Regions from separate parts of the Homo sapiens genome. Here region 1 is linked to region 2. A link means that fine-mapping ties the variant in region 2 to the expression of a gene that starts in the linked region. Tissue or cell type: monocytes after LPS. Region 2 holds a variant in brackets; the other region holds the start of a gene. All regions are shown on one strand. Distances are between the middles of the regions.

Region 1 (8,103 bases), 79 kb before region 2:
GGGATTCAAAGATGAAAGTCTTGGATCCTTCATAATCAGGCGAGGAAGATGGAGAAGCTGGGATCCCTAGTTCAGGGTAGACAGAGTTTTACCTGGTAGAGAGGGAACCAGAACATTCTGACAGTGAAGCAGGGCTGGGAAATGGGTCGTTTCAGATTTGAGTTTACAGTTAACATATGGGGTCTGCGTCTGCCACCAAAGCAAAGGGGGACTCCATGATGGGGCTAGAGGGTTGGCATCTCACCTGGCTGGCACAAAGAACAGCACTGACTGTTTATTAGGTACTGTTTTTCTCTGCATGCAGTGGGTGGTTCTGGATGGACCTAAAAACAGAATTGTGCAATTTGAAGGGATCTTGAAATCTCCGTTGCAACTTCTTCAGCAGAAAGGTAAAAGTCATCCAGGACAGAGGCTGCAAACTGAAGTGCAAGTCAAAACAGAAAGTGGAACCTGCATGATATTTGGCATGTTTGTTTTCAAGTAAATTGTCAACTGAGCTGATTATAATCGCACCCAGAGAATCATTCTGGTATTTTTACAAAGCAATGGTACTGTAAACTCACAATATTCTCTGAACAGAACAGAATTCCTTGGGGCTTGATGCCTGAGTCATTCCTCTTCCCAAAGATCCCATAGGATATGGGGACTCCAGCAGCTCCCCTGGAGTCCTGAAGCTGGCTGACTTCAGCTGGTCCCAGTGCTGTTTGGGGCTATGTTTAGCACTTGGCCTCTTCCTCCTATTCTTCTGCTTCCCTTCCTGCTCCTTTCCAAAGCCCATCATGTTTTCTTCCTCCAACTCCTCATCATCTGTTCATCCAGCCCTTCCCTCATAAAATGCTAGAATGTAAAGCTGGAAGGGTAAACTCACACTTTCATTTTACAGATAGTTGAGACTGAGCACCAAAGAGGAGGGTCACTTGCCCAGAGTCTCACAGTGACAGAGTCCAAATGAGAACTCAGGTCTCAATGCTCCTCTCTCCATCAACTTGTGTTTCATCTTCACCATTTTACTACATCCAGGTACCACCCATGCTATTAATTACTTATTGTTAATTTCAATACTTTTATTTTATTTTTTGAGACAGAGTCTCGCTCCATCGCCCAGGCTGGAGTGCAGTGGCATCATCTCAGCCCACTGCAACCTCTATCTCCTGGGTTCAAGCAATTCTCCAGCCTCAGCCTCCTGAGTAGCTGGGATTACAGGTGTGTACCACTATGCCCGGCTAATTTATGTATTTTTAGTAGAGACAGGGTTTCACCATGTTGGCCAGGCTGATCTAAAACTCCTGACCTCAAGTGATCTGACTGCCTTGGCCTCCCAAAGTGCTGGGATTACAGGCACAAGCCACCGTGCCTGGCCGGTACATTTACTTTAAATGTAAACCTCACATCATTGCCAAGAGACAAGAACCAGTATCACTTCTCATAAATAAAAGGTAACCCTAAAAATAAATTCTGGGGAAACAAAACAAGGTTATTAAAACCCAGCTGGTTGTTTGCTTGTTGAAGGCCCTCCCAGGCCTGCTCTTGATTTTTGTTTTAAAAGAAGGATTAGCAAGCCTTTGAGAGGCATTAACTCTATTCTAGCTCCAGAGACTTCCTCTTTGAAAAAATGAGAAGGATTTTTAAAAGAACTGTAAAGTAAGTGTATGTTTAATTCTATGTCCATGTGCTCCTTAAAACTGTCCCACAGTTTGGGAACAGCCAGTGAAAAGAACACAAGTTTGAGAGTCAGACAGCTTTAGACTCCAGTCCTGACTTTGTAACACTTACTAGTTATTTTGCTTCTCTTAGCCTCAGTTTCTCTATCTCTAAAATGGGAGTAATAATGCCTGCCCTGCAGGTTGGATTACGAAGATAAGAAAGAATACATGTATATGGCCTAGCACAGTGTCAGGAACATAGTAGGTGCTCATTAAATGGCAATTTTAATCATCATTCATTTGTTTCTGCTTGCATGATATATGGCAAGCAGCCCGGCTACCTGGCTGGCTGTCCAGAATCCTACCTAACTGGTGGCTCTCATTCAACCTGGGTATCTCAGCAAATTACTTACAGAAATGTGTCTTACCCAAAATGGGAAAGGAAGTAGAAAAGGCTACTGCCCCCCACCAGCTCATTGCAAGACACCATCCTGTGAACGTGGAGCTCCCACACTCCCAAAGATAGGAAAGTCCTTGATACCATCTTCAAACACATGAGAAATAAAACGCTCCCCTAAAAGTCTGTCAATCTCCAGTTCTCACTCCCCATAGTTCTGGTCCTTCTGCCACAAAACAGCTCAGGACCAGAGCTTGGAGACTCTCACTATCTGAGAGGCAGGCTCGGGAATCATGCAGATGTAGATTCACAACCAGGTTCTTCCATTAGCTAGCTATGAGACCTTTGGCAAGACAATCCCCCTTTCTGAGCCTCAATTTGCCCATCTGTATAATGGGGGAGTTGTGAGAAATCAGACAAAGAAAACAGGCAGTGTTTGGCTCAGAGCCTGACACACAAGAAGCCCTCAATAGATAGCTTCTGACATTGTTGTCACAGCCCAGCCTCTACCTGGAGCCAAAGTTGGGAGTTATGAGGGCAAACTCTGCTCTTGAGAAGCCTGGATCACACCCTTCACCCCACCTCCTCTGGCTCTTTCTCCACTCCTACCACAAGGGCCCCCCTTTACCTCTTTCCAGCTCCGCCCTCCCCCTGCCTCCCTGTTCCCTAAGAGCCATTGCTTCAGGTGAAAGTGAAAGCTGTGGGACCAAAGCAGCCTCCCCACTCCCTCTCTTCCCTTGCTGCTTCCCTTGCTTTCCTTGATACCATGGGTCATTCCTGCCCAGGCTTCAGGCAGGAATCTACAGCCCTCTAAAGTAGGGGGAGGCCAGAGGGGCTGGGATGAAGGAGCCAGGTACTTGGGGGATTCCCAGCCTCCAGAATGAGGAACTACAAAAATACATTTAAACAAAAAGTGAGTCAAGTGTAGGCTTCTGAAAATCCCGGAGATATGCTTGGTTGGCTCTGAGCCCCTCTGGTGCCTGGAGAAACCCCTGGTTTCTCCAGCCCTCTGATCACCAGCCCTGTCAGAGCCAACCAGAACTCTGGTCTCCTAACCCTTTATTGTGTCCCATAAACTGTTCATCTCCCCAGGGGTCTCCTATGTCATCTTAAATTCAGGAGAAAAAGGCAAAGCCCTGGGGATTCCTCCTAGGTTGGAACACCCAAGATACGGTTCGGGGTGGAAGGCGATGTTAAAAGCTCCTTGCCTTCTCACAAAAGTACCTGGGCCTCTGCACCCATCTCTTGTTCCCACAAGATGCCCTGGAAGAAGGCAGCCCCAGCTGGCAAGGAGATGATAACTACTTACAGAGGCTGGCATCTGTCCACAATAAGAAGGGGACAGGAAACGGGCCAGACCCGCCCCTTCCCTTGGTCCGCCTCACTTCCCGCCCTCTGAACCCCCTACCAGTCTCTGTGTGGCCAGCCTCTGAGGCTCCCTAAACCCGTCCAGGCCGTCTAGGCACGCTTGGGCAGCCAGTGCCTTCCCTGAGCGGCCCCTGTAGGCCGCTCCCGGGACCCCAGCCCGGGAGAAGAGAGAGGCAGCCCACCCCATTCAGCCAGGAGCGGGGGCACCTTGCCCAGCTCCCACCCACCCTCCTGCCCCCACAAAAATCAGCCAGGAAGGCCTCTTCCCCGAAGTCTTCCTTCCCTTTCCTTCTCATTCCCCACTCCCAACTCCCGTCTGGTCGGGGCAAAAACAACTCACAGCGGTCAGCAAGCAGCCCCAGAGGACGCACTGCAGAGGCAGACGAACCATAGCGAGGTGAGACCAGGCGGCAGGACCACTGGGCGCCCGAGCGAGGCCTCTGCTGACTCCCCTGCCCCAGCCTTGGCCCCGCCCAGGAAAGGGGCGGGGTCTTCAAAGACCAATCGCGGTCCACCTATCGGGGGGGCGGAGCCCCCAGCAATTCACCGCGCAGGAGTTTCCCCAGAACATTCCCACAAGTCTAATTCCCCCGGGAGTTTAGGGACGCATCTTGCTGTGTACGGGAGGAGGCATGGTCCCAGAGACAGCTCTTCTTCTTTGCCCCCAGGTCCCACAAAGGCCAAGCCGAGGCGGGCTAGGAGCTAGCCTGCTTCCTGCGACCGGAGAGAGATCCCATGGGTGCTGGGGCCTGCCACAGGGACCCTCACGGTTTTCCCCTCCCTGCCCCGCTCTCCGCTGCCTCTAGGTATCCTGGCAGAACCGAAAGAGGCTCCACTGCGGAGAGGCCTGAGGAAGTTCCCCCCACACCACCACGCAGAAAACGGGAAGGCCACAGCTGGGGTATGGGGAGGCGTTTCAAGGAAGAGTTTCCCAACTCAGAATTTCGCTCTCTTTCAAAGGAAATTCCCTCGTGTGGGCGCGTCGTCTCAACTTCCCATCCATTCATCCATGCATCCATGCGTCCTCACCTCATTCCATTCCATCCCACCTCCCACCCAGCACCTGGAGACAGGCATTTATTAAGAGTGGGGCCGGGCGCGGTGGCTCACGCCTGTAATCCAGCACTTTAGGAGGCCGAGGCGGGCAGATCACTTGAGGTCAGGAGTTCGAGACCAACCTGGCCAACATAGTGAAACTCCGTCTCTACTAAAAATACAAAAATTAACCGGATGTAGTGGCGTTCGCCTGTAATCCCAGCTACTCGGGAGGCTGAGGCAGGAGAATCGCTTGAACCGCAGAGGCAGAGATTGCAATGAGCCGAGATCGTGCCACTGCACTCCAGCCTCGAAGGCAGAGCAAGACTCAGTCTCAAAAAAAAAAAAAATAAATAATAAATAAAAATAAAAATAAAGGTGGGGGCCAGGCGCGGTGGCTTACGCCTGTAATCTAACACTTTGGAAGGCCAAAAAGGGAGATTGCTTGAGGCCAGGAGTTCAAGACCAGCCTGGCAACATGGCAAGACCCCCATCTCTACAAAATAAAGAAATTTTTAAGTTAGCCAGGCATGGTGGCAAACACCTGTAGTCCCAGCTACTCAGGAGGCTGAGGCAGGAGGATCGCTTGAGCTCAAGAAGTCAAGGTTGCAGTGAGCCATGATTGCAATGATTACATCACTGCACTTCAGCCTGGGCGACAGTGCAAAACTCCATCTCAAAAAAAAAAAAAGAGTGGGCCAGCCTTTTGTGGCATCATAAAACACTTTAAGTATGTTAGGAAACTCGGGACCCTCTCATTTTGCAGAAACACACACACTTGTGCCTACATTTCCTGGGTTCATGAACTCTGAAGACGTGCTTTTGTTTTTTTGTTTTTTGTTTCGTTTTGTTTTTTGGGTGTTTGTTTGGTTTTTGGTTTTTGGGTTTTTTTTGACAGAGTCTCATTCTGTTGCCCAGGCTGGAGTGCAGTGGCATGATCTCGGCTCACTGCAACCTCTGCCTCCTGGGTTCAAGCAATTCTCCTGCCTCAGCCTCCCGAGTAGCTGGGATTACAGGCTGGCGCCACCACGCCCAGCTAATTTTTGTATTTTTAGTAGAGACGGGGTTTCTCCACGTTGGCCAGGCTGGTCTCAAACTCCTGACCTCAGGTGATCCGCCTGCCTTGGCCTCCCAAAGTGCTGAGATTACAGGCATGAGCCACCGCACCTGGCCCTCAAGATGTTCTTGAACCAGTGTTAACACTCTGCTTTGCAGCATGGAACACCTGGGTTCTGGTGCAGCCTCTGCCTCTGAAGGACTGTGTTCCCTTAGGCCTAAATTTTTCTCCAAGGAAAACTTAGGAGCTTGAACTAGACAACGGTTGAGGTGATGACCCTCCAAGCTCTCAATTTCTGGAAGAGGACAAGAGGCCAGACCTCACAGATCAGGGAGGATGGAAGAGGAGGACACTTCTAACCCCATTCTCATGGCTTCTGCTGTTAAGGGCACATTTGCAAGTCTTGTGGATTCTGCCTCTAGGATCCATCCCTTATTTTCTGTCACCTCTGCCACTGCCCTAATTCAGAGGGTGCCATCTTTCATCTGGACTGTCCCAACAGCCTCTCTCATTCCACAGGATTTATTGAGCACCTACTATGTGCCAGGCAACTCTTTACACTGCTGCGATTCTCTTGATAAACTCCAGATCTGATCGACTGGGACACTTTCCTGCATAAAAGCCTCTTTGGGTTTCCCTGCACCCTCAGGATGATCCAAATTTCTTATCCTGGCAAAGCACACCCTTCCTCACTCAGCCCCAACCTCTCTTTCTATGCTTACTTCCTGCCACGTCCTCCCATGCACACTGGCTTCAGCCTCTCCCCACTTCCCAGGCACACAATCTTTTTTCCTTACGGTTTATCTCATTGCTCTTGATGTTTCCTTCCTTTCCTTCTCCTTTCTTAAACAGTTTAAATGTTGCCTCCTCTTACACCTTCCCCAACTCCCTGAGGCAGAGGTAGGTACTCTATCCCACCCTGCCTCCTCCCCTGTGTTGCCACAGCATTTAGCATGCCAGCTCATAACTCCTTCTGCCTGGTCCCATTTGACTGTGAGCTCCCTGAGGGCAGGACTGGATCTATCCCAGTCCTAGGTACATAATAGGACACCAATATATGGGTGCTGAATGAATGAATAAATGAATGAGTGGGTTCAGCAACTTCTCATCCTAAGTACAGCCTCCAATCATGACAAAGAGTTGGTGGCAGGGGGTGCGAAGCTGGTAATCTCAACACAGACCTCAAGCTGCAGTGGCCTCTTGAGAATGGTGGTCAGATACCAAAAGGCCAGAAACTCTTGAAATCAGGGTCCAGGGAACTTCATTAAAGCCACCCAAACATGCCCAGGATGGAGAGAAGATTAAAATATCTTTTCCCTTTTTAACATACTTTGAAAAAAACAAGCACGGTTTTAAATCCTTTGAGAGAGGGGTGTTACTATAATGATTTCAGCCATTACTTATTCTTTATTTGCTTGATTCCAAAATTGGGCCTTTCACAAAACTGCCTGGGGAAGCAAGTACACAGAATTAAAACATTAATTATATTATATAAAACATATCATAGCAGCAATTAAAGCAGCTTAAATTAATGTGTGAAGGAATAAATGTTAGCCTTCGGGTTGCCCCATGGGGCGAAGACCAGATAAGATAAAGGGAAGATATTTTAGTATATACATATCCTGAGGAGGCATGTGCTGGTGGGCACAGGCCCAGAGAAGGCCTAGAATCTTGTTGAGCTGAGAAGAGTGTGCTGGAGGAGGAAAGCGAGAAGATGATTTAAGGGAAAGTGGCAATATTCGGAGGCCAATCAAAAAGGGAACAATGAAGGGTTCTGCAATAGGAATGGGGCAAAGGACATTCAAAAGAGTAGGGAGCCAGGATTTTGGAAACTCAGAGATGAAATGGCCTTTGTAGGGAGGTGGGTTCACAGTGCCAGGTGAATGGGTGAGGAGCATGCCTAGAGGTCCAGTGTCCACAGCGCTGCCAGAATCTGGCATCCAGAGTGTTCTGTCTAATATGCAAATCCAATTGTGTTGCTCCAAGGTTTAAAGTGGCTCTCCAGGGCCCTCACCCCTTAAGCTTGCAGAGCTGCAAGGCCATGGGCCTCCTGGTGTACATCTCTAAGCATCCTTCCTGCCTTCCCCTTCATGCTCCAGCCCCACTCCCCAGATGTCCCGTGCTGTCACCTCTGCCTGGAGAGCTCCCTTCCCACTGCCACTCTCCTTTCACCTGGCCAACTCTTTCTCACCCTTCAAGGTCCATCTCAGGCAACCCTCCTCTGGAAATCTCTCTCTAACAACCAACCTATCCCCCTGTGCTCTCTCAGAACCTGGGGCAGCTTTACCCAAGCAAGACTCTAGCCCGACCACACTGTATTTCAATTTTTCTGTTTACTTGTGGAGCCAGTGTATTGAGGCGATTCAACTCTGTGGGGTATAATGATGAAGATTTTCTCCCCTAATCTCTGCCTTCAGCCATGCTGTGTTGAATCTCCCTTTTCCATCCCTTAATGACATTTTGGGCAGATTGCATTACTTTTGGATCACTTTCTGTTGTTAAACCTCCATCCTTTAGACCTTTATTCTCAAACTCAATTTAAATCTCATTTTATCTTCTCTCTTACTCATTCAAGAGTTAACTTGAGCCAGGACCCTGCCTGC
Region 2 (8,103 bases):
TCTCCCCGGCCTTATCTCTATTTCATTTCCACTGACATTTCCTAAGCTCCTGATTTGGGCCAGGCTATGTACAGACCTTTCACAGACTAATCAGACCCAGTCACTACCATCAAACAGTCCAATCTAGTGGAGTAAATGAGCAAATAAAGACCCATCTCAGATTGAGTCGATGTGTCCCAAATTGATCTCACCCTCCACCCACCCCAAACCAGCTCCTTTCCTGCATCCCATATTTCAGTAAATGGCACCATCATCAATTCTGACACCCTGCCCTACACTGCTCCCTCTCCCCTTCCCCAACTTCAATACCACCTCCAACTTCTGTCCTTTAACCCCTCCTTAATATTTCTTAAATATGCCCCTTCTCTCCATTCCAAGGTCTCTCCACTGTGGCACTAGTGACACTCCCGGCCAGATAATTCTTTGCTGTGGAGGACTGTCCTATAGCATTGTAGGATGTTTAGCAGCATCGTGGCCTCTACCTACTAGATGCCAGGTACACCCCTCCAGTTTTGACAACCAAAAACGTCTGCAGACACAGCCAAATGTTTACTGGGTGGCAAAACAGCCCTGGTTGAGAAGCACTGCAGTAATTCCCACAGACATCATTCCATCACTCTCACTCAGAAAACCACCATCTCTCTCTCCTGGACTCATAGCCTCAGCCCCTTCCTGGGCCCCCTGCCTCTCTCCTCTCACCCCTTTAACCCATCCACATTAGCAGCCAGAATGAACCTTCAAAAAATGGAGATCTGACCACGTCCCTCCCTTTCCCAAAACCCCTTGGTGGCTCCTCATTGCCTTCAGAATGTGGTCCCAACTCTCCAAAATGGCTTCCAAGGCCTGCCATGATCTGGCTCATGCCAGCCTCTCCTACATCGCTTCTTTCTCCACCTTATTTTGCTCTTTATGCCCCAGTCATACCAAATTACTTGTGATTGGAAAGACACAATAAACTCTTCTGCCTCTGCCTGCTTTTAGGCAAGCTGTTCTTCTGGTTGCAATTTCCTTACTCCTCTCATAGAATTGAAGATCTTTCATTTGTCCTTCAAAACCCTCCTCAGTTGAGTCCAGGAAGCCTATTGCCATCTTATACACATGAACTCTCCCCCCCCGGGCATTCTCTGTGCATTGAATGCACATCTACATATGGCATAATGTATTTGCTATTACATCTATTTCTGCCATTAGTCTCCTTGAGGCCAGGAACTGTGGCTTATTTATTTTGTGTTCCTAGCACTCAGCACAATGCTGGGCACTCTGTAGGTGCTCAGTGACCACCTGTTACGTTGATGACTTCTTTTCCTACTAGCGGTGAGATACTTGTCTCCTTTTCACCTTACTCCTCCCTGATGCCAAGGACAGAATGTAACTCAGAGTAGGTGCTCAATTAAAGCTGATTGAATTTAGCTGAATCCCAAGGAGGGCCCCTTAATCCTGACCGCTTAACCTACAATCCCTGCAGCGTTCCCTGGATGCCAGCCCTTGTCCCTCCGCAGACCTTTGATGAGGCCACTGGCAGCACCAGGGATGCCCTGGATCTCTGTGACATTGTTTCGGGTGAAGTATTCATCACAGGTGGCGTTGAGGAAGCGAGAGGAGCAGAAAAGGCCCCATAGCCGTGTGGTCACCGTCTCATTTCCTTCCCAAGCCAGCTTGGCACAGACATCAAAGCCATGGCGAGACAGCGTGCGGTTACCCAGGAGGCAGATCCTAGGGAGAGAAACAAGGGAGGAAGGTGGGGAGCCACATAACCTTGCCCTCGCTGCACAATACAGCCACCGGGAGACCTTTTAAACACACGGACGCCAGGTCCCCATATCCAGAGTTCCTCGTTTAATTTAAATGAAGCCTGGCCATTGGCTTTTTTTTTTTTTTCTTAAGCTCCCCAAGTGATTCTAATAAGCAGCCAAGGTGGAGAAGCACCGCATTAGTGCAATGCTGTGTTTCAGCACCGTGGACAGCGGTCTCGGGGGCCGCCCTCCACCTCTGAGCAGTGGATGGAGTGGACTTGGATCTGAGTCCCTGGACCCTGTAGACTTCTGTGTCTTTTCCCATCCTGGAGGAGTTGTCCAACACTAGGAGATTGTCCCATTCCAGGAGGTTGTCCCCACCCAGGAAAGGTTTCCCTACCACAGACAGCATTCATTGCTTTGGAACTCATTCCCACTTAATTCTTCCTAAGTCCACCCTACCAGCAAGAAGTTGACTCTTACAAGGTAAATTGTTCCCTCCTCCAGAAAAGTTACCTCACTCTGAAGAGATTGCCCCCAAACTAAGAGAGATTTTCCCTCCCAAGGGAAGCTACTCCCAACCCACACCACTCTGAGATTCTGAGGGGCAGGGAGGGGGAGTTTGGCAGAGACTCTGAAACAGGGCCAGGGAGGTAGGAGGACGATTCCTTGGGCTCAGAGCAGCAGCACTCACGGGAAGTTGGGTGGGTCGAAGGCAGACTTGATGACCCCAGCATAGATGGCCAGGATGGAGAGGATGACACAACCCAGGAAGACAAGGGCAAACTTGTTGACATACTTGACACCCACAAACACCACAGTGGCCATGCAGGTGAGCACACAGGTGCCGTAAACACGCATGTTGTTCAGCATGGCTGCTGCCTCCCCACTGGCATCTTCTGCCTTGAAGATGGCCATGGCTGGGAAGAGGTAAGCCTGTGGGAAAGGGGCAGGAAGAACAGATACCTAAGTCAGCAGCCCTTTGCACTACATGCAGCGCTTTAGGAAAAAAGATGCTCATCACAGCACAGTCACAGTGGTACCAGACTGGAAAAGACATCCAGTAATAGGAGAATCGCTAAAGAAGGCATGGCCTGTCCTGCAAGGACTATGATGCAGCCATTTAAAAATGACATTATAAGGCCAGGCATGGTGGCTCACACCTGTGATCCCAGTGTTTTGAGAGGCCAAGGTGGGAGGATCACTTGAAGCCAGGATTTCAATACCAGCCTAGGCAACATAATGTGACCCCATCTCAAAAACAAATAAAAATACATTTTTTAAAAAATGACATTGCAAGGATGCTGGAAGCAATTACTTCTGTTATTTTTGTTAATTATAATTCTTAATAATTATTTATCATTTTAATAATTTCTAATAGAAAGGTGGAAATAAATGTTCATCACTCGAGGTTGGGTGAATAAATCATGATATCCCCACAGACTATGGAGCTATTAAAAAAGATGATGTAGTTGGTTTTTTATTGTTGTTGTTGGTTTTTTATTGTGGTGGTGGTTTTTTTGTTTTTTTTTTGAAATAAAGTTTTGTTCTTGTTGCCCAGGCTGGAGTGCAGTGGCACGATCTTGGCTCACTGCAACCTCCACCTCCTGGGTTCAAGTGATTCTCCTGCCTCAGCCTCCCGAGTAGCTGGGATTAGAGGTGCCCACCACCACCCCTGGCTAATTTTTGTATTTTTAGTAGAGACGGGGTTTCACCGTATCAGTCAGGCTGGTCTC[G/A]AACTCCTGACCTCAGGTGATCCAACTGCCTCGGCCTCCCAAAGTTCTGGGATTACAGGCATGAGCCACTGTGCCCGGCCAGATGACATAGATTTATATGGACTGACTTTAAAAGCTATCCATGGTACATTAGGTGAACACAATCAGGTTTTTGAAAAAGAATATGTCTCATTATCTCATTTTTATAAATGTGTATGTGAAGATATATACGTATATTAGTATACGTCTGTATGTGTTTTCATAAGTACATCAAAATGTTGTCAGTAGTTTTCCCTGAATCGTAAAAAATGTGGATAATCTATTCTTTATGCACATCTGTATTTTCTAAAATTCCCATGCTAAATATTAACGTTTACATTCTTCCAAGAGTTATTTTCACTGCAAATAATATATACAAAGAGAATATGAGTTGCTTAGGTATAGGGTTATATTTTACATAGACAGAATACAATACCACATAGAAAAACAAAAACTAGAAGGCAATACACCAAAATGTTAATGGTTATTTTCTTTGGGTGACTTATTTCCTTCTTTACATTTTTTCATGACTTGGATATTCCCCCAATTTTCTGCAATGGGCAGAATTGCATTTACAACAATTTTCAAATATTTTAATTTTTAGAAGTCATGGAGGTCTATTCTCCCTCATCATTTGCCTCCTCAGGCCTTTCATGCCCCATCCATCCTCCCTGTCCTACCCTCTTCCATCCTGCCGTGACACTAATTGCTGTGACACCTTCTAGTTCTAGGTTTCCAAGGCAGTGTGGTATAGAGGACACGTAAATGTATCAAGAAGTAGGCGTTTGGTGAATATTTGATTTTTTAGAGAGAATGGGAAGAATTCAGTTACAATGCTGTTTGTGACATGTAATCTCATTTTTTGTGAGTCTGGACCTACCATATGTTAACTATTGTAAGATTATAGGTGAATTTTATTTTCTTCTCTACCCTTATCATTTTCATCAATGAAGCTGCATCACTTGTGTAAGGCTCTGGAAGTCAGAAAGACCAAGGTTCATATTCCTTCCATTCGTTCCTTAAACTCTGAGCCTTGCTTTCCTCATCTGTAAAATGGCCACCTTTTAGCCAGGTGCAGTGGCTCACGCCTGTCATCCCAACACTTTGGGAGGCTGAGGTGGGAGGATCATTTTAAACTCAGGAGTTTGAGACCAGCCTGAGCAACATAGTGAGACCCCTATCTACAAAAAAATACAAAAATTAGCTGGGCATGGTGGTGCTTACCAGCTACTTGGGAGGCTGAACTGGTGGGGGGGATCATTTGAACCTGGGAAGTCGAGGCTGTCAGTGACTGCACCACTGCCCTCCAGCCTGGGCAACAGAGTGAGACTCTGTCTCAAAAGAAATAAAAAATAAAATAAAATAAAATGGCCACCTTTAACTCATGAGAGAGTCATGACGATAAAATAAAATGATATACTTCAAGCCTTGGGGCCTGCACAGAGTAGGGGCTTGGGACATGTCAGCTCTACTTCCTATCCACCAGGGACACCTCTTCAGCACCCATGCCCTACAGGAAGGGGATGAAGGATGGAGACCTAAGTCACCAGTCCTGACTTCAAGCACTGCCCAGCAACCTGGTTTCTCTCCATCAGTCACTATTCCCAACAGATGTCTTTATACGGATCCCTCCCCTGGTTCTTCTCTTTTGCAATCCAATAGCCACCAGCCATCTACCATTAACATCATAGAGTACCTAGCACAGTCCATGCCCCTTGGGAGGCAATCACACAATGGTAGCTGCTGCATAACATTACTGTTTTTATTTCTACCATATTTTAACTCATCAACCCACCTCTGCCGCCTATCTGAGAGCTGAGTGACCTTGAGGAAGTTATCTCACCTCTCTGAGCTTCTCATTTGTAAAATGGGCATCATAATACTTAAACCTCGTAAGGATACAAGAGAATGGCTGGAAAGCACTTGGAAGGATGCTGAGAGCTCAGTGGGGGCCTGATAAACGACAGCTGTGTATGTTACATAATTATTGTATCTTGTCTCCCCAACTAGACTGTGAACTCTTTAGAAACAGAACCACATCTGACTTTGGCCTTACTGAACCACATTTTTGGCCTCACTGAATGGCCTGGCCTATAGGAGGTGTCCAGGGAGCACTGATTAACTGACTGACAACCTGGGGTTCCACACCTCCTCCTCAGCCTCTCTTACCAGCAGGATTTCGATGGTGCCCAGGATGTACATGGCTCCTGCAAAGGTAGTGCCCAGGTAGAAGCAGAGGCCCACGGCACCCCCAAACTCTGGGCCCAGAGACCTGGAAATCATGTAGTAGGAGCCACCAGCTGCAGGGAGAATCTGGTATCAGCGAGAGGGTCGGGGGCACTGGGCTGCCGTAAGGGGTGAGGGGTGTTCAGTGACAGAGGCAGAAGGGGGTTGCTCCAGGCCTCACAGGCTTATGGGCTGCAGCCCTAGAAAGGGGACTGGTGAGAGACCCAAGCAACCACTCTGCATGGATTTTGCAGCACTAATTACCATGTTGCTAATTACCCCTTTAAGGAGGTCATGGCTCAGAAAATTGGATGGTGGAGAGGAGGGTCTCAGGATGAGTTGGGGGAGGGCTGCCCTATTCAACACCGAGAGCTGCCTCCTCCTCTGCCCCCAATAGGGCTGAAAACAGATACAGCCCAGCCCCCTAGTCTAGAATATTATCTCTCTTGGGCCTTGATGTCCCCCAAAGCCCAGGGCACTATCCCTCCTTCCACCCAGCCATCCTCCCTCCCCACAAAGCCCCAGTCACCTACCAGGCACAACACCATTCGTTGCAATTGCACTCATGGAGATGGCCGTGAGCATCGTCTGTGAGGAAAGAGATCATCAGAGCGGTGGCTGGGGTAGGGGCCGCAGTGGCCTGGGTGGGGGCCAAGCCTTATACCCCATAAACACCAGCCAAACCCACAGGTTCTCTTCTGCTGAGCTGCTCCCTGGACCTGTTCCAACTTCTACTCCTGCCAAGTCCTTCTTCTCAAGAAAACCTTATTCACCATGCGAACGGAAGGAGCCCAAGCAAGCCACAGCATCAGAGAGCTCTGGAAATCCCAGCCTGGTCTCAGACCAGCTGCCTGACCTGAGACAACTCACTTCACTTCTCCAAGCCTCAGTTTCTCCATCTATAGAATAGGAGTAACAGCTCCGACACTGCGTACCTCACATGCAGAGCTGTCTCAAGGTTATGTACGAGGACATGTAAATATATCAAGAAGTAGGTGTTTGGCGAATATTTGATTTTTTTAGAGAGAATGGGAAGAATTTGGTTACAATGCTGTTTGTGACATGTAATCTCATTTTTGTGAGTCTGGACCTGCCAAAATGTTAACTATTGTAAGATTATAGGTGAATTTTATTTTCTTCCCTACCCTTATCATTTCCATCAATGAGCTGCATCACTTGTGTAATTACACACAGAGAGATCCAGGTGAAACCTGGTTAACAGCCATCAAGGACAAGCCTGTGAGATGCAGGAAGGACCAGTCAGGCCTAATTTACTCTCAAAGATCATAAGCAGTGGTTCCTATAAAAAGCTCAGGTCTCATGCTTCCATCCTCCCACCTCCCACCCCCAGGCCTCTGCCAAGCCCCAGCTGTCAGGGGGTGGTGAGGGGAGGGGTGTCACTCACACAGGAGCAGCAGATGAACACCATGCAGAAGGACTCCATGATGCCTGCAATGCCCACCACCCAGGTGAGCCGCAGGAAGAGGATGACGCCAAAGATGTTCTGCAGGCACGGCAGGTACACGCCCATGAAGGTGCCCATGCGTGGGGCCTGCCAGGGAGGCCAGCATCAGTCTCTGCAGTCCTCATCATTACGAACACCCCAGGTGTGCTCCTCCTCCATGTTTCTCTGCCCCCACCTTCCTCTTCTCTCTATTCTCAACCCTTCATCCCTCTTCTTTCTGATTTGTATCCCCTTTCCCTCCCTCCATTCAAATCCATTTTCCTCCCCCATCCTCCCCCACCCCCCATCCGTCCCTTTTCTTCCATTTCTCATCCCCCGAGGTCCTCACCTGCACCGGCTTCTTTTTTCCACCCTCATTGTTTTCTGCCTCTTCATGCTCCCTACTTCCCTGGGGCAGGTTGGTGTAGTTGGCCAGGCCACTGAGCAAGGAGGACACCATAGGGCTGGTGTCCATCTCCTCCTATGGAGGGAGGGTGTCAGTGCTAGGAGGCTGGGGGAGCAAGTGGAGTGAGCTGGGTGGCGAAGGGCAGAGGAAGAGATGGGGACAAGGAGCACGAAACTATTCAGGTTGGGATGAGATGGGAAAGGAGGAGGAACAGGTGAGGAGAACAGGGGTAAGAATGGTAGGATGAGGAGAGGGCAGGGAGCAGAGGGAGTAAATCCCAGGAGGGAGAAGGAGGGATGGGGAGGCTCAAGGAAGAAGGTAGACTCAAGGGAGGGGTGGAGACGAGGGTATTGCTCCCTAGGGAGGGAGGGAGAGAGCAGCTGATGAATCAGGATAATGAATTGTAGGTGGGGGCCCAACAGCCCTAGCAGCCCACCTCAAACAAGGCCATGTTCTTGCCATCATACTCCTTTCCCTTCTCTGTGTCGGTGCTGTTGATGAAGGGACTGCTTTCCTTGGGGTTGCCATCACCTGAGAAGG

Direction of the effects. Positions count from the first base shown, and alleles are read on the strand shown. Sizes are in standard deviations (SD) of each study's normalised expression.
As copies of A replace G in region 2, the expression in monocytes after LPS of the gene that starts at base 3,829 in region 1 goes up (moderate effect, 0.47 SD a copy in Fairfax 2014).

The links. PIP is the estimated chance that this variant, and not a neighbour inherited with it, causes the effect.
Region 1: CD40 starts here. The variant in region 2 is fine-mapped to the expression of CD40 in monocytes after LPS (Fairfax 2014, PIP 0.95).

The regions. Positions count from the first base shown.
Region 1 is chr20:46,114,040-46,122,142 of GRCh38, reverse strand. It overlaps CD40 (CD40 molecule), which reads right to left and starts at 3,829. Exons shown (of 9, transcript NM_001250.6): 1 at 3,749-3,829; 2 at 245-323. The coding sequence starts at 3,799. RefSeq lists enhancers at 1,473-1,562, 2,607-2,956, 3,967-4,026, 3,792-4,608, a silencer at 3,831-4,050 and a cis regulatory region at 2,550-4,647.
Region 2 is chr20:46,034,939-46,043,041 of GRCh38, reverse strand. It overlaps SLC12A5 (solute carrier family 12 member 5), which reads right to left. Exons shown (of 26, transcript NM_020708.5): 2 at 8,000-8,094; 3 at 7,507-7,638; 4 at 7,119-7,265; 5 at 6,247-6,301; 6 at 5,657-5,787; 7 at 2,428-2,669; 8 at 1,502-1,713. Among named protein-coding and RNA genes, the nearest start is that of SLC12A5, 9.8 kb to the right of the region's middle. RefSeq lists silencers at 1,855-2,055, 1,838-2,132. The variant G/A (reference allele first, on the strand shown) is at 3,470.